Linked DNA regions of Homo sapiens. Each later gene encodes a partner of the first gene's protein in a complex. Each region holds a gene or a part of one and is shown in the gene's direction. Other genes may lie near its edges. The genes, in order: RANBP2, NUP107, NUP214, NUP98, NUP205, NUP93 and NUP85.

Evidence for each region.
Region 2: RANBP2 (region 1) and NUP107 share a complex: the UniProt entries of both Homo sapiens proteins name them as parts of the nuclear pore complex.
Region 3: RANBP2 (region 1) and NUP214 share a complex: the UniProt entries of both Homo sapiens proteins name them as parts of the nuclear pore complex.
Region 4: RANBP2 (region 1) and NUP98 share a complex: the UniProt entries of both Homo sapiens proteins name them as parts of the nuclear pore complex.
Region 5: RANBP2 (region 1) and NUP205 share a complex: the UniProt entries of both Homo sapiens proteins name them as parts of the nuclear pore complex.
Region 6: RANBP2 (region 1) and NUP93 share a complex: the UniProt entries of both Homo sapiens proteins name them as parts of the nuclear pore complex.
Region 7: RANBP2 (region 1) and NUP85 share a complex: the UniProt entries of both Homo sapiens proteins name them as parts of the nuclear pore complex.

What each region holds. Positions count from the first base shown.
Region 1 is NC_000002.12:108,781,982-108,785,481, forward strand, and holds part of RANBP2 (E3 SUMO-protein ligase RanBP2), read left to right. Parts: intron 1-146; coding exon 147-420; intron 421-546; coding exon 547-881; intron 882-1,614; coding exon 1,615-1,920; 3' UTR 1,921-3,500. UniProt on the Homo sapiens protein: E3 SUMO-protein ligase which facilitates SUMO1 and SUMO2 conjugation by UBE2I. Involved in transport factor (Ran-GTP, karyopherin)-mediated protein import via the F-G repeat-containing domain which acts as a docking site for substrates.
Region 2 is NC_000012.12:68,693,478-68,696,977, forward strand, and holds part of NUP107 (nuclear pore complex protein Nup107), read left to right. Parts: intron 1-3,341; coding exon 3,342-3,445; intron 3,446-3,500. UniProt on the Homo sapiens protein: Plays a role in the nuclear pore complex (NPC) assembly and/or maintenance. Required for the assembly of peripheral proteins into the NPC. May anchor NUP62 to the NPC. Involved in nephrogenesis.
Region 3 is NC_000009.12:131,142,586-131,146,085, forward strand, and holds part of NUP214 (nuclear pore complex protein Nup214), read left to right. Parts: intron 1-1,694; coding exon 1,695-2,169; intron 2,170-3,500. UniProt on the Homo sapiens protein: Part of the nuclear pore complex. Has a critical role in nucleocytoplasmic transport.
Region 4 is NC_000011.10:3,717,555-3,721,054, reverse strand, and holds part of NUP98 (nuclear pore complex protein Nup98-Nup96 isoform 1 precursor), read left to right. Parts: intron 1-229; coding exon 230-343; intron 344-1,504; coding exon 1,505-1,643; intron 1,644-3,500. UniProt on the Homo sapiens protein: Plays a role in the nuclear pore complex (NPC) assembly and/or maintenance. NUP98 and NUP96 are involved in the bidirectional transport across the NPC. May anchor NUP153 and TPR to the NPC.
Region 5 is NC_000007.14:135,560,917-135,564,416, forward strand, and holds part of NUP205 (nuclear pore complex protein Nup205), read left to right. Parts: intron 1-3,500. UniProt on the Homo sapiens protein: Plays a role in the nuclear pore complex (NPC) assembly and/or maintenance. May anchor NUP62 and other nucleoporins, but not NUP153 and TPR, to the NPC.
Region 6 is NC_000016.10:56,834,629-56,838,128, forward strand, and holds part of NUP93 (nuclear pore complex protein Nup93), read left to right. Parts: intron 1-105; coding exon 106-150; intron 151-1,972; coding exon 1,973-2,089; intron 2,090-2,979; coding exon 2,980-3,098; intron 3,099-3,500. UniProt on the Homo sapiens protein: Plays a role in the nuclear pore complex (NPC) assembly and/or maintenance. May anchor nucleoporins, but not NUP153 and TPR, to the NPC. During renal development, regulates podocyte migration and proliferation through SMAD4 signaling.
Region 7 is NC_000017.11:75,229,679-75,232,968, forward strand, and holds part of NUP85 (nuclear pore complex protein Nup85), read left to right. Parts: intron 1-1,661; coding exon 1,662-1,745; intron 1,746-1,894; coding exon 1,895-1,960; intron 1,961-2,149; coding exon 2,150-2,301; intron 2,302-3,172; coding exon 3,173-3,290. UniProt on the Homo sapiens protein: Essential component of the nuclear pore complex (NPC) that seems to be required for NPC assembly and maintenance. As part of the NPC Nup107-160 subcomplex plays a role in RNA export and in tethering NUP96/Nup98 and NUP153 to the nucleus.

The sequences.
Region 1 (3,500 bases):
GCCCTAAGATATATAACCAGTTATCACATTAACAAATTCTCTTTGTCATCACAAAGAAAATGCCTTAAAAGAATTTGGATCTTTGAAATTTGTCATGGAATTTATTATAAGCAGCAGCTTATAGAGAATTTCATCTCCTATTATAGGTAGAAGTAAAATCTGGAGAAGAAGATGAAGAAATTTTGTTTAAAGAGAGAGCCAAACTTTATAGATGGGATCGGGATGTCAGTCAGTGGAAGGAGCGCGGTGTTGGAGATATAAAGATTCTTTGGCATACAATGAAGAATTATTACCGGATCCTAATGAGAAGAGACCAGGTTTTTAAAGTGTGTGCAAACCACGTTATTACTAAAACAATGGAATTAAAGCCCTTAAATGTTTCAAATAATGCTTTAGTTTGGACTGCCTCAGATTATGCTGGTGAGTTTTTACATTCAAATGCTACTTTTCATTTTTTGGACTTTTCTAAAATCTATAACAAACAAAACAACTTATAACAGTTATTTTAATACTAAGGTCACTGCTTCCCCTTTCCCTCCCTGCCAGATGGAGAAGCAAAAGTAGAACAGCTTGCAGTGAGATTTAAAACTAAAGAAGTAGCTGATTGTTTCAAGAAAACATTTGAAGAATGTCAGCAGAATTTAATGAAACTCCAGAAAGGACATGTATCACTGGCAGCAGAATTATCAAAGGAGACCAATCCTGTGGTGTTTTTTGATGTTTGTGCGGACGGTGAACCTCTAGGGCGGATAACTATGGAATTATTTTCAAACATTGTTCCTCGGACTGCTGAGAACTTCAGAGCACTATGCACTGGAGAGAAAGGCTTTGGTTTCAAGAATTCCATTTTTCACAGAGTAATTCCAGATTTTGTTTGCCAAGTAGGTATTATTAAGTACATACCACAATTGAGGTCTTGAAGAGTGCACCACACTAATGGGAAATTTGAGTGTTTTTCCTTGACCTCATCCTGTAGTTTTGTTAAAGATTTCTTTAGGTTTTCCACACATGGAATCACATGGCATCACTACCCATTCCCTGCTCCTGCCTAAAACTTTCAACCTAAAATAATTGAGGCTGGGCACAATGACTCATACCTGTAATTCCAGCACTTTAGGAGGCCAAGGCAGGCAGATTGCTTGAGCCCCGGAATTTGAGACCAGCCTGGGTAACATGGCAAAAATCTCGTCTGGACAAAAAAATACAAAAATTAGCCAGGTGTGGTGGTGTGCGTCTGTGATCCCAGCTACAAGGAAGCTGAGGTGGGAGCATCCAGGAGGCCAAGGCTGCAGTGAGCTAGGTTTGCACCACTGCACTCCATCCTGGGCGACAGAGTGAGACAGCCTGTCATTAAAAAAAAAAAAAAAAAAAAAAAAAAAAATCAAATTTTCAGTACTTGAGATCTAGTAGAAACTAAGGGATGGGAAAAACCTTTTCATTTTTCATCTTCTTTCCAACAATATGAATTTCTTAGTTTTCAAACTATACTCAGGAAAGCTGGGCTTTAGGATTTAACATGTAGTGATGAGTTCTGTGTGTATTTTAATATTTTACTCAGGATTCCTATTAATTGAAAAAAATTTTTAACTTTTTTATTATAAATCTTTTTTTCAGGGAGGAGATATCACCAAACATGATGGAACAGGCGGACAGTCCATTTATGGAGACAAATTTGAAGATGAAAATTTTGATGTGAAACATACTGGTCCTGGTTTACTATCCATGGCCAATCAAGGCCAGAATACCAATAATTCTCAATTTGTTATAACACTGAAGAAAGCAGAACATTTGGACTTTAAGCATGTAGTATTTGGGTTTGTTAAGGATGGCATGGATACTGTGAAAAAGATTGAATCATTTGGTTCTCCCAAAGGGTCTGTTTGTCGAAGAATAACTATCACAGAATGTGGACAGATATAAAATCATTGTTGTTCATAGAAAATTTCATCTGTATAAGCAGTTGGATTGAAGCTTAGCTATTACAATTTGATAGTTATGTTCAGCTTTTGAAAATGGACGTTTCCGATTTACAAATGTAAAATTGCAGCTTATAGCTGTTGTCACTTTTTAATGTGTTATAATTGACCTTGCATGGTGTGAAATAAAAGTTTAAACACTGGTGTATTTCAGGTGTACTTGTGTTTATGTACTCCTGACGTATTAAAATGGAATAATACTAATCTTGTTAAAAGCAATAGACCTCAAACTATTGAAGGAATATGATATATGCAATTTAATTTTAATTCCTTTTAAGATATTTGGACTTCCTGCATGGATATACTTACCATTTGAATAAAGGGACCACAACTTGGATAATTTAATTTTAGGTTTGAAATATATTTGGTAATCTTAACTATTGGTGTACTCATTTATGCATAGAGACTCGTTTATGAATGGGTAGAGCCACAGAACGTATAGAGTTAACCAAAGTGCTCTTCTCTAGAATCTTTACACCTCCTGTGTGGTTACAAGTTAACTTTGTAAGTAGCGTACCTTCCTTCCTTAAAATATCTAGCTTCCTGTGCCCTTTCATAGATATTCGATTAATTTTTACATTTTAAACAAGTTGACTATTTCCTTTAGGGGTTTTGTTTCAAACTTTTCTGTCATCTGTCTCTACTACCTCAGAAACTGCAGCTTGGTTCTGATGATAGAAATTGAATTTTTCCTTGTAGTTATTGTGATAAAGTATGAATATTTTTAGAAAGTCTATACCATGTTCTTTCGTTAAAGATTTGCTTTATACAAGATTGTTGCAGTACCTTTTTCTGGTAAATTTTGTAGCAGAAATAAAATGACAATTCCTAAGAGCCACTGACATCCAAAAAATTCATTACTTACGCTTCGGGTTCATTCTAAAGTAAGGAAGACAATTTAAAGGCAGTAAATTCAAACTGCTGCATAATTTCCAGAGCTCCTAGTTTCTCAAGTTTGATACACACCAAAAACGTATTTGGAAATGGCTTGTATCAAATGTTAGGCAAATTGCTAAAGAAAAGAGGATGTTCTTATTGGCCTACTCAATATGGAACTACAAAGAATCCAGGTAGAACACAAAATTTTGTATATTGCAATTATGAATATTGACTGTCTTCCACCCATCTGTGTTCTTTCGGGTGAAATTACCTCATTTTATTTAGTGAGGAAAGACAGGTTTATTCCCTGTTACATGGGGATTTGGAAATTGGGTATCCTAAAGCAAGTAACTGTTCAACCACCAGTCAAAAGAGGGGAGGGATGTTGTGCGAGTAATGAGTGATGGTATACCATCACCATTCCACTCGGCCACAAAGCCAGATACTTGAAATAAACCTACTCCAAATGTATCAGTTCAGTCTTGAACCATGGATTACATATGTTTACACTAAATATTTCAAATTGGCTTATTTGGAAATCTATGTAATATAAACTGATGTAAAGTGTGTTGTAACTTTTCAGCTGAGACAGTTGATGCCTTCGTCATGATTTTAGAATAAATTCTTAAGTTAATGCAAGTGCTT
Region 2 (3,500 bases), on another chromosome or scaffold:
TGCTGGGATTATAGGCAACAACATAAATTTATTTTCTCACAATTCTGGAGCCTAGATGTCTGAGTTAAAGGTCTTGGCAGGGTTGGTTTTCTCTGAAGCCTCTTCTCTTGGCTTACAGATGGCTGTCTTCCTCCTGTGTCTTCATCTGGTCTTCTGTCTATAATATATTTTTCCTTAAGCTAATTAGTTGTGGTTATGGCAATGGTATTTGATACAGTATCACTAGAAGGTTGAGAACCTCACCTTGGTTCTCAGTCTGAGCAGCATCTTGCCATTTTATCTTTTAATGTAAATAGCAGCCTGTTACGTTATTAGACAAGTCTCATATTGTAATTTTTTTCTTATTTGTGCTGTTGAAAGAGCATCTCTTTCTTTAGGTTTAGTTCTTAATCTAACATTGTTGATGTGTTTTGTTTTCTCCTGGACCGTAATGCTGTTATTTTTTTTCAGATAGTGTTATGACCACTGTACAAGCATTAACTCATGTAATCCTTATGGTGGTCCATTAAATAGTTACAATAATTATTCCCATTTTAGAGAAAAGGAAACTACTGCTCAAAGTGGTTAAGTAACTTACCTCAAACCACCTGGCTAGGAAGTAGTGGTACCAGGATTTGAAACTAAGCAGTTTAGCTCCAGAGCCCTGCTCTTAACACTTTGGTAACTACTACTTTCTTGTAGTATCTGTCAAAAACAGGTACTCGTATTAAGTGACTCAAAATACTTTCTACTTAGGCCAAGTGCCTGTATTTTCCCAGAGTGGAACATGCCATTTAGTATGTATTATAACTTTCTCCACTACTTTGTAATGGTGTGCTTAAAATATAATTCAGATATTTTTAAATCTGGCTCAATTTCTTAAGTAATTGTTTATAAAATAACTAGTATATCTTTGAGATCTTAAAAGACCTTTAGGTATCAAAAGAAAAAATAGATAAATTGGGCTACATCAAAATTTTAAACTTTTGTGCACGAAAGAATACAATCAGCAAAGTGAAAAGGCAACCCACAGAATGAGAGAAAATATTTGCAAATCATATATCTGCTTAGGGGTTAATATCCAAAATGTATAAAAACTGCTACAACTCAACAACAAAAAAACAACCCAATTTAAAAATGAGCAAAGAAATAGAATAGACAGAGGCTGGACGCAGTGGCTGATGCCTGTAATCCCAGCAATTTGGGAGGCTGACGCGGGTGGATCACCTGAGGTTGGGAGTTCGAGACCAGCCTGACCAATGTGGAGAAACCCTCTCCCTACTAAAAATACAAAATTAGCTGGGCATGGTGGCGAATGCCTGTAATCGCAGCTACTCGGGAGACTGAGGCAGGAGACTCGCTTGAGCCCGGGAGGCAGAGGTTGCGGTGAGCTGAGATCATGCCATTGCACCTCCATCCTGGGCAACAAGAGCGAAACTTCATCTCAAAAAAGAAAGAGAGAAAGAAAGAAATAGAATAGACACTGTTCTAAAGAAGATTCACAAATGACCAGTAAGCACATGAAAATATACTCAAATGTCACTAATCATTAGGAAAATCCAAATCAGAACTACAGTGAGTTACAAGATACTGCCTTACACCCGTTAGTGTGGCTACTGAAAAACAAACAAACCAACAACAAGAACAAAAACCCAGAAAATAACAAGTATTGACAACAATGTGGAGAAATTCAAATCCTTGTGCACTATTGGTTGGAATGTAAAATAGTACAGCTGCTATGGAAAACAGTATGGCAGTTCCTCAAAAAATTAAAAATAGAATTACCATATGATCCAGCAAACCTGCCTCTGGGTATATATCCAAAAGATTGGAAAGCAGAGTCTCAAAGAAATATTTGTACATGCATGTTCATAGCATGATTCATAGTAGCCAAAAGGTAGAAGCAAGCCAAGTACCTGTTGATAGATGAATGGGGGAAACAAAATGTGATCTATACATACAGTGGAATATTATTCAGCCAAATATGAAGGACATTCTGACACATGCTACAACATGGATGAACCTTGAGAACATTATGCTAAGTGAAATAAACCAGTCACAAAAGGGCAATACTCTATGGTTCCACTTACATGAGATATTTAGAATAGTCAACACATGTAGGGACAGAAAGTAGATGGATAGTTGTCAGGGGCTGGGGTAAGTGGAGAGTGGGGAGTTAATGTTTATTAAGTACAGAGTTTCAGTATTACAAGATGAAATAGTTCTGTGGATACATAGTGGTGATGGTAGCACAACAATGTGAATGTACTTACTGACACTGAACTATACACTTAAAAATGATTAAGCCAGGGATAGTGGCTCATGCCTTTAATCCTACCACTTTGGGATGCTGAGACAGGAGTTAGCAAGACCCTGTCTCTACAGACTAATAAAAAATTAGCTGGGCATGGTGGCTGGTATATACCTATAGTCCCAGCTACTGGGGAGGCTGAGGTGGGAGGATCACTTGAACCTAGGAGTTTGAGGCTATAGTGAGCCATGATTGCACCACTGTACTCCAGCCTAGGTGACAGAGCAAGATCCCCCTCTCTTAAAAAAAAAAAAAAGAAAAATGATTAAGATAAATTTTATATTATGTGTATCTTGCCAATTAAAAAAAATTTTGAGGCTGGGTGCGGTGGCTCACGCTTATAATCCCAACACTTTGGGAGGCCAAGGTGGGCGGATCATGAGGTCAGGAAATCAAGACCATCCTGGCTAACACAGTGAAACCTCGTCTCTACTAAAAATACAACAAGTTGGCTGGGCATGGTGGCACGCACCTGTAGTCCCAGCTACTTGAGAGGCTGAGGCAGGAGCACCGCTTGAACCTGGGAGGTGGAGGTTGCAGTGAGCTGAGATTGCGCCACTGCACTCCAGCCTGGGTGACAGAGTGAGACTCTGTCTCAATTTTTTTTTTTTTAATATAGCAGTGAATTTATAAAAGACTTGTAGCCATTTAAATTTTCAAACAGGCTGGGTGCGGTGGCTCACGCCTGTAATGCCAGCACTTTGGGAGGCTGAGGCGAGCAGATCACCTGAGGTCAGGAGTTTGAGACCAGCCTGGCCAATATGGTGAAACCCCATCTCTACTAAAAATACAAAAATTAGCTGGGCATGGTGGTACATGCCTGTAATCCCAGCTAGTTGGGAGGGTGAGGCAGGAGGATCACTTGAACCTGGGAGGTGGAGGTTGCAGTGAGCTGAGACCGTGCCATTGCACTCCACCCTGGACAACAAGAGTGAAACTCCATCTCAAAAAATAAATAAACAAATAAATACATTTTCAAACAAACGGAATTACCTAGAAGTACGTCACTTAACTTTTCTTTATTCCTTTTTTTTTTTTTGATGTGTTCTAGCATCCATGAGTATGTTTTCTGATTTCCTGCAGTCTTTTCTGAAGCACTCTTCGAGTACAGTTTTTGATCTTGTGGAAGAGTATGAAAACATCTGTGGTAGTCAGGTAAGCTAATTTCACTCCGTCGTTAGTCAAACTTCAGTATTTTTAGTTTTCATAA
Region 3 (3,500 bases), on another chromosome or scaffold:
CTTTTGATTTATTTAGGGTCTGGTATATATTTTTCATGTCAGTTTACCTAATATGCATGAAAGTGTTTTAACATCTATGTATGTCTTTACAGAAGTTAGTTGTAGCTGGTTCCATATCTATTGTATAAAGAAGTATTAACAGAATAGGTTTGCTTGCATTATTATACTTTCATCAATGTGACAGTTTACTTGGATTTTTGTTTTCAGAAAGTGGTATTTTCATACTTGTATCTAAGTATTACGTTGCATTAGACAAAGTGTCTTCCATGAAGATAAACTGCCATCTTAGCTAATTTGGAACAACCAAGTCCTATTAATATAAATAGAAAATATTGACACAAAGAATTCTTTTCTTATTTAGTTGGTTATTTAATTTAAAGATTAATATTTTTACCTTATGGAAAGTTTGGAAAATAGAAAAAAAAATTATTCATTTTTGAGACAGGGGTCTCACTCTGTTGTGCAGGCTGGAGTGTAGTGGCAGGATCTTGGCTCACTGCAGCCTCTGTCTCCCAAGTCCAAGCGATCCTCCCACCTCAGCCTCCCAAGTAGCTGGGACTACAGGCACAAGCCATCACACCTGGCTGATTTTTGTATTTTTTTTGTAGCAACAGGGTCTCACTTTGTTCCCCAGGCTGGTCTCAAACTCCTGGACTCAAAGGGTCCTCCTGCTTTGCCCTCCCAAAGCTCTGGGATTACAGGCATGAGCCACTGCGCCCAGCCTTCCATTGACTTTTTTTTTTCTTTTTAACCATTTGGATTGCATTAAATATCTTTTTCATTTTTTGCATTATGTTTGTAAGCTTTATTCTTAGAAGAGAAATTACTGGGTCTGTTTTTTACAGTTTTTTATACAATGCCAAAATGTTTTCTTAAAAAAAATACTAGTTACCTACCAGTGATAAAAAGTTTCAGGTTTGTTTTACCCATCCAAACATAAGGGGTTAGACATATTTAAATTCTTATAATTTAGAGGACAAATTAAAAATGTACCTTGTTTATATTTCTTTGATTAGAGAGATTGAATGTGTTTTCTTTATGTGAGTTAGTTTCCCTGTTTATTAGTCCTGAAATTTTAAAATCTCAATTTGTATGAGCTTTTTAAAAAATAGAAAACATCTTATTTGTCATTTGCTATGGATCTTTTTTTTTAGTTCATTACCATTTAGTTATTGTACCTGAGTAGCTATTTTTTACACAAATCTTAACCTTCTCCCTTTGCGATTGTTTTTTTTTTGGTCACTTCTAAATTTATCAAGGTGTTAGATTCTGAGACCTAACATATCTATCAATTTGCCTCCTTTGTTTTGAGATACCTGTATTTATGTGACTTTCTATGTGTATTTATCTGGAATTACTTTTAGTGAAATAAGGTGGAGGTCTGAATTAAAACTTTTTCCTGGTTGTTAATGAAATGTTGCAGTGACTGAACTGTTTTGTGTGCCATAGTAGCACTGAGAAGTCCATGAAGTCCAATTATTCTAATGTCTTTCCTTAGTTTTCCTTCAGTTTCATTTATCTCATGAGACCTGAAAACTCCAACATGAACTGTGTACCCATGTGTTCTTTTTGCTTCTTAAACTAGTAACATTTCTGGCTTTATTCTACCACAAATTCTTTTTCACTTGCTTTCTATTATGTGAACCTCCACTGTTACAGTGTTAACATTTTCCTTCCTTTTTTTGTCACTGCAGGAAGTACTCCCACTACCCCAACCTCCTCTCAAGCCCCACAGAAACTGGATGCTTCTGCAGCTGCAGCCCCTGCCTCTCTGCCACCTTCATCACCTGCTGCTCCCATTGCCACTTTTTCTTTGCTTCCTGCTGGTGGAGCCCCCACTGTGTTCTCCTTTGGTTCTTCATCTTTGAAGTCATCTGCTACGGTCACTGGGGAGCCCCCTTCATATTCCAGTGGCTCCGACAGCTCCAAAGCAGCCCCAGGCCCTGGCCCATCAACCTTCTCTTTTGTTCCCCCTTCTAAAGCCTCCCTAGCCCCCACCCCTGCAGCGTCTCCTGTGGCTCCATCAGCTGCTTCATTCTCCTTTGGATCATCTGGTTTTAAGCCTACCCTGGAAAGCACACCAGTGCCAAGTGTGTCTGCTCCAAATATAGCAATGAAGCCCTCCTTCCCACCCTCAACCTCTGCTGTCAAAGTCAACCTTAGTGAAAAGTAAGTCACTTCTAAAGTTTGATTCTTCTGTGAGTTGGGTAGAAATATTGGATGTTATTTACTAAAAGTAGAGTCACTCTGAGAGGAGTTAACTGAGTAGAATTTTTTTACCCAGAGTGATACTTGCAAATGGCAAAAATTCAACCAACATAAAATACTGGCATTTCATCAGTGAATAGAGTCCAGAAGGGTCTCTTAGCTAGCATTTTATTTTTTTGACTATGGGATTTATATTCAGGTATTTGTTTTGCTTTTTTACGTTACAAATGTAGGAAATATTCCTTATTTTAAAAAAAGAAGCAATCCAGAGTATGCATCCTGGAAGGGAAATGAATCCCTTGTAGTCTTTTTTCCTCCCTGTGTCTACCCTTAACTCTCTCTGAACTGCTGTCTACACAGCCACAAAGTCATCTTGTGACACTGTAAATTGTTAGGTGATTCTTCTGCTTGACAGTCCCTATGAAGCCCCGTGGCTGCTCACTGCTAATTCTTAGGTTGGTATCCAGTTTCCTCCAGATCTGGGTCGGGCAGCTCACTCATTTCTTATTTATTTACTTCTTTATCTTGTTCTTTTCTTCCCACTAGAATGTAAGCTTTTGGAGGGAAGCAATCCCTTATATCTTGTAACCCCTCCCAAGATAACCATGAGTTCCCAAGATAACCATCGAGTATAAGTACTACCAGCTTTTTCCCTACTTGCCTGTACTATCTGTTGTTGCTATGGTGGTGCTGCTGCCACCACAGTTACTGTTAATACTGAATTGGCACACATCCACTTCATGCTAAGGGTTGCATAGTGTTCCATTTTGTTGACTGCACCACAGTTTATCTGACCAGTCATCTAATGCTGGAGTTTAGATTGTCTACAGACTTTTGCTCTTTAGGTGGAACCGACTTTACATTTCCTTTAGGCCATAAGTATCCCAAAGACAGTTCCCTGCATTCCTCTTCCTTTTTCACTCCCCAGAGAAGGTGCTCACTCTCAAAACGAGTTCTCAGTAATTTCCTTGGTAAGAGAAAGTACTAACTCTCCTAAGCATAATTGTGTCCCACCTCCTGTTTAAAACTCAGCTGGAAACAATAGTATTTCATATCATGATAAACTTGGTATTTCATATTGTGATAAACTTAGTTTTGATATTTCCCCTGAATAATTAATTCCTAAATAAGCAGACGAAAAGATAAATGTTTCCTTGCAGCTTTCACCTTTTATAAGAAATAGCTAAACATTTTTGTTTCCTGAAGGCAAAAAGTATGTTATCTTTGTAAGTTAACATAAAAGATAATAAGTTATCTTTTGATGACATTGCTCATGCTAGTGTAAAAGAATC
Region 4 (3,500 bases), on another chromosome or scaffold:
TGTATCATATGTATGTTCTTCAAACCTATTTGACCATGAAGCTTTTCACACACACACACACACACACACACACACACACTCACACACCCCTTCTCCTAGGAATCATGTTTGGTAGAAAAGTAGTTTGGAAAATTCTTCATTCTGATATATTTTCTCTTTATATGATGATTTAGTTGCTGATTATTTCAGGTTATTTTTTTTTCTGTTTTTTTTTTTTTTTTTGTCACAGGTATTATTCTCACTAAGGTTGGTTACTATACTATTCCATCTATGGATGACCTTGCTAAAATTACCAATGAAAAAGGAGAGTGCATTGTCTCTGATTTCACTATTGGTCGGAAAGGTAAGTGTGAGTTTAGCACTTAGTGATTAAGCCAGAGAGTTGCACCTTATTTTTGTAATTAGGGGAAGCTTTTGATAGCTGAATCTTCATTTTCCTACATTTGGGCCCACCTTGGCCTGAATCTTAAATACTTTGATTGATAAGTAACAAAACAAGAAAGACTGGAACCATGTAAATTTTTTTATTTTTATTTATTTTATTTTTTCTGTTGAGATGGGGTCTTGCTACATTGCCTGGCAGATCTCAACTCCTGGGGTCAAGCATTTCTCCTGCCTCAGCCTCCTGAGAAGCACAGAACCATATAATATTCTTTGGGCTTAGGTATACCTGTTTGGTGCTAGTAACTATTTGGGTCATTTTAATTTTCTGTAATTAAAGAAAATACTGGAAATACCAAGAACTTCTGAGAAAATTGAATAATAGGCAAGAGATGTATAACACTTAGCATGAACTTCATGTTATTATTACTGATAATTTTCTTGTGGGAAATGCCACTGTGCTATATTGTATTAAAAAGAGCTCAGGCATTTTAACCCATATGCCAGGCCAAGTGCGAAGGTTTGTTTATATAGCGTCATTATAGATAAATGGGAAGAGATTTAAGAAGGTTGTTTTGAGGCTAATGGGAGTTTTATAAAAATGCAGATGTTAGGCCTGTCGCAGTGACTCACACCTGTAATTCTAGCGCTTTGGGAGGCTGAGGTGAGAGGATCACTTGAGCTCAGGAGTTCTAGACCAGCCTGGGCAACATAGTGAGACCTCACCTTTACCAAAAGTAAAGAAAATGAGCCAGGCCTGATGATATGTGCTTGTAGTCTCAGCTACTTGGGAGGGTGAGGTGGGAGGATTGTTTCAGTTTAGGAGGTTCAGGCTGCAGTGAGACAGGACCACTGCACTTCAGTCTGGTCAACAGAACAAGACCTTGCCAAAAAAAAAAAGAAAAGAAAAGAAAAGAAAAATGCAGATTTTAAATCAGATAACAGTGTAATTGAAGTTACTCTCCCTAAGTCCCCATTCTTACCAGTCTAGGAATTGCTGAATTATTTAAAATACTAATACTTAAAACTGCTTTCTCCTTGTGATTGTTTAATCACTATAGTTGTAAAGTAGGTATTTGCCTTCATACAGAATGAATTTTTAACTATTTGCTCTGATTTATAGGTTATGGTTCAATCTATTTTGAAGGAGATGTGAATTTGACAAATCTAAATTTGGATGATATTGTGCATATCCGGAGGAAAGAAGTAGTTGTCTACTTAGATGATAACCAAAAACCACCTGTGGGTGAAGGGCTAAATAGGTAAGAGTTTATGTACATACAGAAAATTATCAGCTAAATCACAATTTTTTTTTCTGTAAACATAAATGTGTTTAGATGTATGCTTCTGTAGCTTGCTTTCCTTACTATAGAGTACATTTATTGTCTCTACTTTGATTTAAAAGTATAAATGGCAAAGAAATGCTATACTGTGATTTTGAACTCCTTTTCCCTGATTTTATTTTTTAATTCATTTTTTTACATTCCTTGGATTCGATTCTATTCTATTTTATTTCATTTCATTTCATTTTACTATTATTATTTTTTTTTTTTGAGATGGAGTTTTGCTCTTGTTGCCCAGGCTGGAGCGCAGTGGAATGATGTCAGTTCACTGCAACCTCCGACTCCCGGGTTCAAGCGATTCTCCTGCCTCAGCCTCCCAAGTAGCTGGGATTGTAGGCGCCCGCCACCATGCCTGGCTAATTTTTGTATTTTTAGTAGAGACAGAGTTTCACCATGTTGGCCAGGCTGGTCTTGAGCTCCTGATTTCAAGTGATCCTCCCACCTCAGCCTCCCAAAGTGCTGGGATTACAGGTGTGAGCCACGCTGCCCAGCCTCCCTGATTTTATTGGGTCCAACTGCTAATTTCAAAAACTCTTTTTAATAGTATTTTGCTTTATTCCTGTTTCTGCTGTGGCTATACTTAACTCTCTATTTTAGTGTGAGATCCTAGCTTCTAATATCTTAGTCAAGTGAAAGGGCTGTAGTGAAAATTATTTATCTTCATAACCTACCAACCCTGAATCAGGAAGAAATAGAAAATCTGAGCAGATCAATCGATCCTTTCCTTTCCTTTCCCCTTCCGCTTCTTTTCTTTTCCCTTTCTCTTCTTTCTTTCTTTTCTTTCTTTCTTCTTTTGAGACAGAGTTTCACTCCTTTGCCCAAGCTGGAGTGCAGTGGTATAGTCTCAGCTTACTGCAACCTCTGCCCCCTGGGTTCAAGCGATTCTCCTGCCTCAGCCTCCAGAGTAGCTGGGATTATAGGTGCCCGCCACCATGCTCAGCTAATTTTTGTATTTTTAGTAGAGACAGGGTTTTGCCATGTTGACCAGGCTGGTCTTGAACTCCTGACCTCAGGTGATCTGCCCACTTCGCCCTCCCAAAGTGCTGGGATTACAAGCATGAGCCACTGTGCCGGGCCAATAATTAGTAAAGAGATTGACTCAGTAATCACAAACTTGTCAAAAAAGAAAAACCTAGAATCAGATGGCCTCATTGGTGAATTCTACTAAGCGTTTAAAGAAATAACACCAGTCCTACTCAGACTCTTCCAAAAAATTGAAGAGAAGGGAATACTTTCACACTCATTCTATGAGGCAAGCGTTACCTTATTCAGTAACCAAAGACACTGCAAGGAAAGAAAACTACAGACCACTTGATGAGTATATTGATGAAAAAGTCATCAACAGAGCCCTAGGAAGCAGAATTTAACAGCGTATTGAAAGGATTACACATCATGGCCAAAAGATTTATTCTGGAATGCATGGATGGCTTAACATACAAAAGTCAGTGAAACATACCACTTTAACAAGATAAAGGAATATACCACATCATCATCATCATCATAATACAGAAAAAGTATTTACCAAAATCCAACACTCTTTCATAATAAAGGCACTCAAATACAGAAGGCTTTTCCTGTGAGACAAGGCAACACAAGGATGCCTGCTTTTGCCACTTTTCCCAAATATACTACTGCAAGTCCTGGTCAGAGCAATTAGGCAAGAAAAATAAAAGTTAATACAGTTTTGAAAAGTAGTAAAATTATCTCTGTTCTTTGATGACATCTTGTGTAGAAATCCCTAAAGATGCCACACAAAAAAACTTACTAGTTATAAAC
Region 5 (3,500 bases), on another chromosome or scaffold:
TGAACACTGCTGAACTGTACACTTAAAATTTGTTGAGATTGCATTCTATGTTATGTGCTTCCTTTAAATTACAGTTTTAAAAAATCAAACATCTTGGAGTTGTAAGGAAAAAATACAGAGATTGTAGAGTTCTAAGACCTATGGTTGGCCAGGTGTGGTGGCTTATGCCTGTAATCCCAGCACTTTGGGAGGCTGAAGTGGGCAGATCACCTGAAGTCAGGAGTTCGAGACCAGCCTGGCCAACATGGTGAAACCCTGTCTCTACAAAAATACAAAAATTAGCCTGGCATGATGGCAGGTGTCTGTAATCCCAGCTACTCGGGAGGCTGAGGCAGGAGAATTGCTTGAACCCAGGAGGAGGAGGTTGCAGTGAGCCGAGATCATACCACTGCACTCCAGCCTAGGCAACAGAGCGAGACTCTGTCTTAAAAACAAACAAACAAAAAACAAACAAAAAAACCTATGCTTGTATTTCAGCTGTATAACTTAACTAGTCTTGTGACCTGTATCAACCTGGCTGAGTACACTCACAGACTTGTGAATAAGCAACTATTAACACTGCTTGGCAGTCCTTCTGTGATAGTCTGGTCACCTCGTCCATTCACAGCAGTGACTACTTCAGACCTTTCTACACTCTTCAAATCTTTAACCTGCAACTAACTAAACCCTCAGACTTCTAGTCACAGAGAAAATAGGAGCCAACATACATGAACTCCCTTTATTCACTCTCAAACCTACAAACCTAGGTGTGTCTGCATTCTTTTGAATCACTTTTCCTCTGTCTTCCTATCTAATGTAAATCCCACCCATTGTGTTCTTCACCTGTTACCCCTTTTTTTGTCTTGTATATTCACTTCTCTCTCTTGCTCTTCCCTTTCTCTCCACTGATGATCTCATGCGTCACTCCACTTACTGTCCTCTTCCTAGTCAAGCCTTTCAAAAGATTTGTTAGTATTCATGGACTCCATCTCCTTCCTTCCTTTGTTCCTTCCTTCCTTCCCTCCTTCCTTCCTTCCTTCCTTCCCTCCCTCCCTCACTCTGCCCAGGCTGGAGTGCAGTGGTGCAGTCTCGGCTCACTGCAGTCTCCACCTCCCAAGTTTAAATGATTCTCCTGCCTCAGCCTAGTAGCTGGGATTACAGGCCTGAACTGCTATGCCCAGCCTACTGACTCCCTTTTCATACCTCCTATTCCTTCACCCATTCTGGTCTCTTCCATCCTTGTAAACAGCTCTCAATAGGGTTAACTTCTGTTTCTTGTAGTTCAGAAAGTTCCTTTTTAAAAAATTATTTTTTATTTTGAGACAGGGGCTCATTCTGTCGCCCAGACTGGAGTGCGGTGGTGTGATCTCAGCTCACTACAACCTCTGCCTCCCAGGTTCAAGAGATTCTCCTGCCTTAGCCTCCCTAAGTAGCTGGGATTACAGGCGCCCACCACCACACCTGGCTAATTTTTGTAATTTTAGTAGAGATGGGGTTTCACCACGTTGGCCAGGGGTGCCTCGAATTTCTGACCTCAAACGATTCACCTGCCTCGGCCTCCCAAAGTGCTGGGGTTATAGGCATGAGCAGAAAGTCCCCATGTTTTAAATCTTCATTTGGCTTGATCTTTTAGAGTAAAGACCAAAATCCTTTTTTTTTTTTTTTTTTTTTGAGACAGAGTCTGGCTCTGTTGCCAGGCTGGAGTGCAGTGGCGCGATCTTGGCTCACTGAAACCTCTGCCTCCCAAGTTCAAGCGATTCTCTTGCCTCAGCCTCCTGAGTAGCTGGGACTACAGGCGTGCGCCACCACACCCAGCTAATTTTTGTATTTTTAGTAGAGCAGGGTTTCACCGTGTTGGCCAGGATGGTCTTGATCTCCTGACCTCGTATCTGCCCGCCTCGGTATCCCAAAGTGCTGGGATTACAGGCCTGAGCCACCACACTCGGTCATCAAAATTCTTTAACGTGGGCAAGTGAGCCCTGTGTGATGATCTTGCCAAACCCGTTTTCTGTACTGCAGCTCTCTTGGCCTTTTGAGTTCTTTGACATGCCGCATTCCCTCTTGCCATGGAAACCCACAGGTTGTCCTCTCCCTGGAATGCATGTCTTCACCTCCCACCTGTCAGTTAACTATCACTTTTGTTCTTCAGATTTCAGCCTAGTTATCACTTCCTCATGGATAATTCTTTCCTCTGGCTAGGTCAGAGTCCCCTATTATGTGATCTCTTGCCCTGGCTACCTCTCCTTCATATCCTTCATATCCTGACCACAGTTGGATTTTATTTTATTTTTATTTATTTTTTTATTTTTTGAGATGGAGTCTTACTCTGTAGCCCAGGCTGGAGTGCAGTGGCGTGATCTCGGCTCACTGCAGCCTCCGCCTCCTGGGTTCAAGCGATTCTCCTGCCTCAGCCTCCCTAGCAGCTGGGACTACAGGCGCATGCCATCACGCCTGGCTAATTTTTTGTATTTTTGGTAGAGACGGGGTTTCGCTGTGTTGGCCAGGACGGTCTTGATCTCCTGACCTCGTGATGTGGCCCGCCTTGGCCTCTCAAAGTGGTGGGATTACAGGCGTGAGCCACTGTGCCCGGCCAGATTTTACATTTATGTATGATTATGATTAATGTTTTTCCTCACTGCAGTATAATCTTACCAATACCTCACACATGGTGAATGAGTGAGTAAATGTGATTTGCTGGAGGTATCCCTAAACATTAAGGAAAATAAATGTATTTCTCAACTGACTAAACTACATGGTAAAAATACATATTTAGTAATTTTGAAAAATTTATAGTGTCCCTTCATTTGTAATCAGTAAAAAAGATATTTACTGTAATCCTAGCACTTTAGGAGGCTGAGGAGGGAGGATCACTTGAGGCCAGGAGTTCAAGGCAAGCCTGGGCAACATAGCAACATCCCAGTTCTACAAAAAATACAAAAATTAGCCAGGTCTGGTGGTGCGCGTGCGCCTGTAATCCTAGCTACTAGAGAAGCTGAGGCAGGAGGTTGCTTGAGCCCAGGAGTTTGAGGCTGTAATGAGCTGTGATTGCCTCACTGCACTCCAGCCTGGGTGACAGCAAGACCCTGTCACAAAAAACAAACAAAAAAAAGGTGTTTACTGAAATTGGTCAAACTCAAGACAGATTGAAGATAACTCTTTGTTGCGGCTACCTTTGGTGTTTTTTTTTTCTTTTTCTTCTTTGAGACGAGGTTTCACTCTGTTGCCCACGCTGGAGTGCAGTGGCTCAGTCATGGCATACTACAGCCTCTACCCTCTGAGACTCAGGTGATCCTCCCACTTCAGCCTCATGAGTAGCTGAGACTATAGGCACAAGCCACCATGCCCAGCTATTTTTTTTTTTTTTTTTTTGAGACGGAGTCTTGCCCTGTCACCCAGGCTGGAGTGCAATGGCATGATCTCAGGTGACTGCAACCTCTGCCTCCTGGGTTCAAGCAATTCTCCTGCCCCGGCCTCCCAAGTAACTGGGATTACAGGTGTTAGCCACCATGCCCAGCTAATTT
Region 6 (3,500 bases), on another chromosome or scaffold:
TTATCCCATTCATCCCATTTGATTCCCCTCTTTTTTCTCTGAAGACTTATGGAATATGTTTATATCTTTGTCCAATAATTTGAGTAAACTTTTTTCCTTCCACAGTTCGATATGATTCTTGGGAAACTAGAGAATGACGGAAGTAGAAAGGTGAGTTAAATGCATCCTTAGAGAAATGTTCGTTAGCCATTGGGGATTTATAAATATCAAAAAATACACTTAGATTTTAAGATTCAAGGTACTAAAGATGCAAATCTGAACAGAGTTGCTTAATTTAAAAAATGGAATGAAAATTATGGGCCCAAATGATGACCTTGGTTTTACACACACTTATATCTCCTTAAAATATGTTAATTTGTGATTACATAGCTTTTTTATTATGTTCAGAATATTCATTTGTTCATGCCTGTCATTTTTTGAGCTGAGAATGCTATTATACATTTCTGCCATTCTTGGCTCAGAAAACATGCAAGGAAAAGAAATTGATTACTGCACCCATTCTCCCAAGATGGGAAAGTTAGACATGCACTTGACCTCCTTCAAAATGCAGTTTCCAAGGGCTTTGAACTCCACAGTGACCCTGGAAATACTTCTGGAAGCTTGAGGGATTTCAGGACTCACTATGCCCATTGGTTGTCATGGCAGGAGGGTCAGAGATCCTGTTGTCAGAGACCAGTCATGACCCTGAATCTCCCTGTGGCCCTTGGAAAGTCACTTGTCCCTCAGGGGCTGAGTTTTCTCGTTTGTAAAAATGAGTGATTTGGACCCAGCAATCTGTAGATGAGCTCACACTGCTCACACCATCTACCTCAGAAGAAAGGCAAGTGACAGTGCTGATGACAGTGGCCTTGCTTATTGGGCAGTGACAATCAACAGGCATTGTGCTGAGTGCTTTGCATAGTTTCTTCTTTAACAGGCTGCACTGGGGCCAGGAGGCTCCTACTGTATGTGAGTTGACAGAGCTAGAAACATAGATAAGACCTTATCCTCTGCTACCTCCCAAGTGGCAGGGCAAGTCACCTCAACCTGGTCCAGCCACCTTGACCTGGTCTAGCCCTGAGAGTCCAGCGCTAGTGGAGAAGCAGAATGGCCAGGCAGAGATGTTATGCACTTGCCTTCATTCTCCCAGGGTGCCTAAGGCCTCTCTCATGCTCTCCTGACCATTTAGTTGCTGTTGAGTGGTGATGGTGATTTTTTTTTAAGAAATGTCCTGTTACCAGCCGGGCGCGGTGGCTCACGCCTGTAATCCCAGCACTTTGGGAGGCCGAGGCGGGTGGATCATGAGGTCAGGAGATCGAGACCATCCTGGCTAACACGGTGAAACCCTGTCTCTATTAAAAATACAAAAAAATTAGCCAGGCGTGGTGGTGGGTACCTGTAGTCCCAGGTGCTCGGGAGGCTGAGGCAGGAGAATGGTGTGAACCTGGGAGGCAGAGCTTGCAGTGAGCCGAGATTGCGCCACTGCACTCCAGCCTGGGAGACAGAGCAAGACTCTGTCTCAAAAAAAAAAAAAAAGAAATGTCCTGTTACCACTTGCTGTGTGTTTTTTCAGCACTGAGTTCCTTTTGCCATCTGTCTTAGAAAGCAAATCCAAAATTTTTCAGATATTTTTTCTAAGCCTCCTGATTTTTCTCTCTAGTTCCTACTTATCAGCAAATTTAAAATCATTGATTTCACTGACTCTCTGGGTCATTTTGGAAAATTAGAAAGCACAGATGTCTTATTGCTGACTCCTCTGTGCTTCTAGTAAGTCTGCCCTTTCATGTGTAGTTTCCTTGGTCTCTTTTATAGTTTTAATAGGACTTTATATCTTTAAGAAAGCCAGAGTCTGGCTGATGAAATATATGCGTTGCCCAGGGCAAGCAATTCCACTTGAAGTATTTTTTGGATCCTAATTGCTTCTCTGTGTTTAAAATAATAGCTCTGTGCACCCGTCTCTCTCTTCCTCCCCCTCCATAATTTGTCTTGTCAGCCTGGAGTCATAGATAAGTTTACTAGTGACACAAAGCCTATTATCAACAAAGTTGCTTCTGTGGCAGAAAATAAAGGACTGTTTGAAGAGGCAGCAAAGCTGTATGACCTTGCCAAGGTAAAGTGTGCCCACTTCCTTCTTTTGCACTTCACAGGTCTGCTGGCCTTTTGGCATTAAATGTGCAGCCACTTGGACAGTGTCATTGTTGTAGCACCCTCCCTGCAGAGGCATTTGCTCTAGTGCTTAGACAGTTAATGGTCCAGTCAGGACAGAATTCCCATTTTACAGCATTATTTCTGCCCATAAGATTTTTCTGACCAAACAACATATTGAAAGGATGTCCTGCAGGCATTGAACTGTTGTCTCACTTGGCAGCAGAATTAGCATCCATCACATTTCGATGGTGAAGCCACTGTTGAAAATTACATTATGCTGACCCTGGCAACCACAGACACACTGGGGAACAGTGGTGTTAGAAAATAAGACCACATCAGTGTGCAGGAAGGAGTGAAAGAAAATAAGACCTTAGCTGGGCGTTTTGAGAGGACTAGAATACATGTTTCTACCGAAGAACAAATGATGACTAAGAACATATGATAACTGCTAAGGATTCTATGACCTAAACAAGATTACATTCTCTCCTTTATCAACTGAGAAAAGTAGACAAAAAAACAGCTATAGGCCAAGTGCAGGGGCTCACGCCTGTAATCCCAGCACTTTGGGAGGCCAAGGCAGGCGCATCACTTGAGGCCAGGAGTTCGAGACTAGCCTGGCCAACATGGCAAAACCCCGTCTCTACTAAAAATATAAAAATTAGTCAGGCATAGTGGTGCATGCCTGTAATCCCAGCTGCTCAGGAGGCTGAGGCACGAGAATTGCTTGAACTTGGGAGGCGGTAAAAAATGTCACCCCAGAAAGTTCTCTTTGGTGGGTAGGGGGCATTATATAGTTGTTCCTTTTATTGATTACTTTATTGATTGCTTCCTTAATTTTAAAAACTTGAGCAGAATGCTGACAAGGTACTGGAGCTGATGAACAAACTGCTGAGCCCTGTCGTCCCCCAGATCAGTGCCCCGCAATCCAACAAGGAGAGGCTGAAGAACATGGCACTCTCCATTGCCGAACGGTAAGCCAGGAGCTGGCTCCATGGGACCCTGAGGGTGCCACTGCCAGTGCCAGGCCACCTATGCCCACCCAAATGCATGTTCAGCTTTACTAGGTAACAGCAGACAGCTTTCCAAAGTGGTTCTACTAACTCACCATGCCACCAGCACTGTGTGAGTTCCTTTGTCCCCGCATCAGAACTAGTACTTGGTACTATCAAACTTAACATTTTTGCCAAAGAAATGGGTATGAAAGGGCATCTCAGTATTTTAATCATGCACATAAAGCTTAATTTTAAGCATTATGCTCGCCTAAATACTGTTGTATACTTTCATCAGCCCTCTCAAAGGCATTCAAGACCAAAGCTAGTGATGGTTGGATGGGGGAGATTCTTAGAGGTGTCGTGGCCAGTGTTTCAGACTAC
Region 7 (3,290 bases), on another chromosome or scaffold:
ATGTCTGGTCTCCGTCACTTGAGTTGTGTTGTTAGTTCTCTGCTCTCAGTGCTTGCTGCCTTCCAGCCTTGGAGGCTGCTGGATCCTTTGGGAAGACACCGGGCACTGTCTCAGCCCTTCCTTCCAGTTGTTGGTGGCTTTCGTGCAGGCTAAGGCTTTGGCTCCCTTAGCCTGGGTCCCCTATAGCCTTTTCACTGGCTTCTCCAATGGTTTCGACATAACCATCAGCTAGAAATCTGGGTAGCAACAGCTGTTTTGGGAAGCTGAGGTGTCCTTTCCCCTGGCCCAGCCCACTCCCTCCCATTTTTTTCCCCAGCTTTATTGAGGTGTGATTAACAAAGTAGTATGTATTTAAGGTGTACAAAATTTTTTTTTTTTTTTTGGAGACAGAGTCTTGCCCTGTCACTCAGGCTGGAGTGCAGTGGCACGATCTCAGCTCACTGCAGCCTCTGCCTCCTGGGCTCAAGCGATCTTCTGCCTCAGCCTTCCGAGTAGCTGGGACCACAGGCACACGCCACCACGCCCAGCTAACTTTTGTATTTTTGGTGGAGATGGGGTTTTGCCATTTTGGCCAGGCTGGTCTTGAACTCCTGAGCTCAAGTGATCCACCCGCCTCGGCCTTTCAGTGTTGGGATTACAGGAATGAGCCACTGCACCCGGCCAAGGTGTACAACATGTTTTTTGTTTTTTTTTTTTTTTGAGATGGAGTCTCACTTTGTCGCCCAGGCCGGAGTACAATGGCGCGATCTCGTCTCACTGCAAGCCCCGCCTCCTAGGTTCACGCCATTCTCCTGCCTCAGCCTCCAGAGTAGCTGGGACTACAGGTGTCCGCCACAACATCCGGCTAATTTTTTGTACTTTTTGTAGAGATGGGGTTTCACCGTGTTAGCGAAGATGGTCTTGATTTCCTGACCTCATGATCCTCCCACCTCGGCCTCCCAAAGTGCTGGGATTACAGGTGTGAGCTACCGCGCCCGGCCAACAACATGTTTTGATAGATGTATACATTGTGAAATTAAGCTAGTGACATCTGTCACCTCACATAGTGACCCTTTTGGTGTGCGTGTGGTGAGAACATTCAAAAGCTACTTTCTAGCTGGGTGTGGTAGCGCATGCCTGTAATCTCAGCTACTGAAGAGGCTGAGGCATGAGAATTGCTTGAACCTGGGAGGCAGAGGTTGCAGTGAGTCGAGATCTCACCAGTGCACTCCCGTCTGGGTGACAGAGCAAGACTCCACCTCAACTACTTTCTGAGCGATTTTTTTTTTTTTGAGATATGGTTGTGCTCTCTCACCCAAGTTGGAGTGCGGTGGCGTGATCTCGGCCGATTGCAGCCTCTGCTTCCCAGGCTCAAGCAATACTCCCACCCCAGCTTCTCGAGTAGCTGGGATTACAGGTGTGTGCCACCATGCCTGGCTAATTTTTGTATTTGTAGAGATGGGGTTTTGCCATGTTGCCCAGGCTGGTCTTAAATTCCTGGACTCAGGTGATCTGCCTGCCTTGGCCTCCCAAAGTACTGGGATCACGGGCATGAGCTATCATCACGCCCGGCCCCATCTCTTTGAGGGACAGGACATGTGGGGTTTCTTGCTCACCCCCACTCTTGTGGGACGCGGCCTGTGCCCTGATTTTCCTTCTTGCCTTGGTGTCTGAATCTGCAGCATCGCCCTGAGCAACTGGTGGTTTGTGGCCCACCTGACAGACCTGCTGGACCACTGCAAGCTCCTCCAGTCACACAACCTCTAGTAAGTGGCCGGGAGGCACCGATCCTCCTCTTCTTACCACCAGGCCCCCGAGGGTGGTGTGAACTGAATGCCTGAAAGGGAGGTTGGGCTAAGGGGGCCCTGAACAGGGCAGGCCAGGAGTCTTGGTCTTTTGTTATGTTTTATTCCAGTTTCGGTTCCAACATGAGAGAGTTCCTCCTGCTGGAGTACGCCTCGGGACTGTTTGCTCATCCCAGGTAGGAAGGACCCCATGGGTGTGGGCTATGCGGGTGCTCTTCAGCATGCGGGTGCCATTGGAGCTTGGACTGTTCTCTCCCAGTTGGCTCCTTGAAGGCTTCGGAAGGGTCAGTGAAAGGGAGCTGTAGGTGCCAGTCCTCGGAGCCATGAGGCAGCACCTCATGTCTGTCCTCCTCGAACCTTTGCAGCCTGTGGCAGCTGGGGGTCGATTACTTTGATTACTGCCCCGAGCTGGGCCGAGTCTCCCTGGAGCTGCACATTGAGCGGATACCTCTGAACACCGAGCAGAAAGCCCTGAAGGTGCTGCGGATCTGTGAGCAGCGGCAGATGACTGAACAAGGTGAGCTGGCCCTGCTCCCAGCCTACTGTCTGTGGGACGCAGGAGTCAGGGGATCCTGAGGTCACACTTTATGCCTACCCCAGCCATCCTCCTCCTCACGAGCCACACTGGAGACGTGGGGCTGTGGACGCCAAGAGGTAAACTAAGAGATGGGATAATTACTTGGGAGGGACAGGAAAGCTAGGGATCCACTGGAACCCAGACAAAATCTACACGCCATCTGGAAAGGCCTGAGCCGCCCCTTTTCTCACACACTTGATTCCACGAGGTCAGGGCTGGGGTTGGCGCTGTTTCCCTGTCCAGGTGGGTTGCTATTGCTAGCTCAGCCTGGCTCAATGGGGAAGCAGTGCTGGAGGTGGCTCCAGAAAAGCAGAGAGAGTGGAATGAGGATGACCAAGTCTGCCCCTTCATTTCTCCCCTCACTGTTGAGTAATGTAAACATGAGTTATTACCCTGCAGAGAGGCAGTTGCATGTTCACGACCATTTCTGAAAGCATATGGTATTCACGATCCACAGGAAGATGTGATTTGAGGCATCTGGAGAGGTAATAGAAGAGCTGACACGTAGGGAGAAACACGTAGGGAGAAAAAAAATAGAAGAGCTGACATGTAGGGAGCAACGTTTTGCTCCCCTTGAAGCCACACACACTCATAGAGCCAGTCTTGCCGTGATGGGCACTTACACTCTTAGCAGATCCCAGACACTGTTAATCAGCCGAGTTTCCAGCTCTGCCGATCCAGCTGCATTTAGAGCCCAAAGAGTGGCTCTGCGGTGGAGTGAGGCTGTGAGGCCACTCCGGTCCCCACAGGGCTCAGGAATGGAGTGATTTGTGGAGTGAAAGCCGTTTACCTTTTCTTTTCCCCTGCAAAGTTCGCAGCATTTGTAAGATCTTAGCCATGAAAGCCGTCCGCAACAATCGCCTGGGTTCTGCCCTCTCTTGGAGCATCCGTGCTAAGGATGCCGCCTTTGCCACGCTCGTGTCAGACAG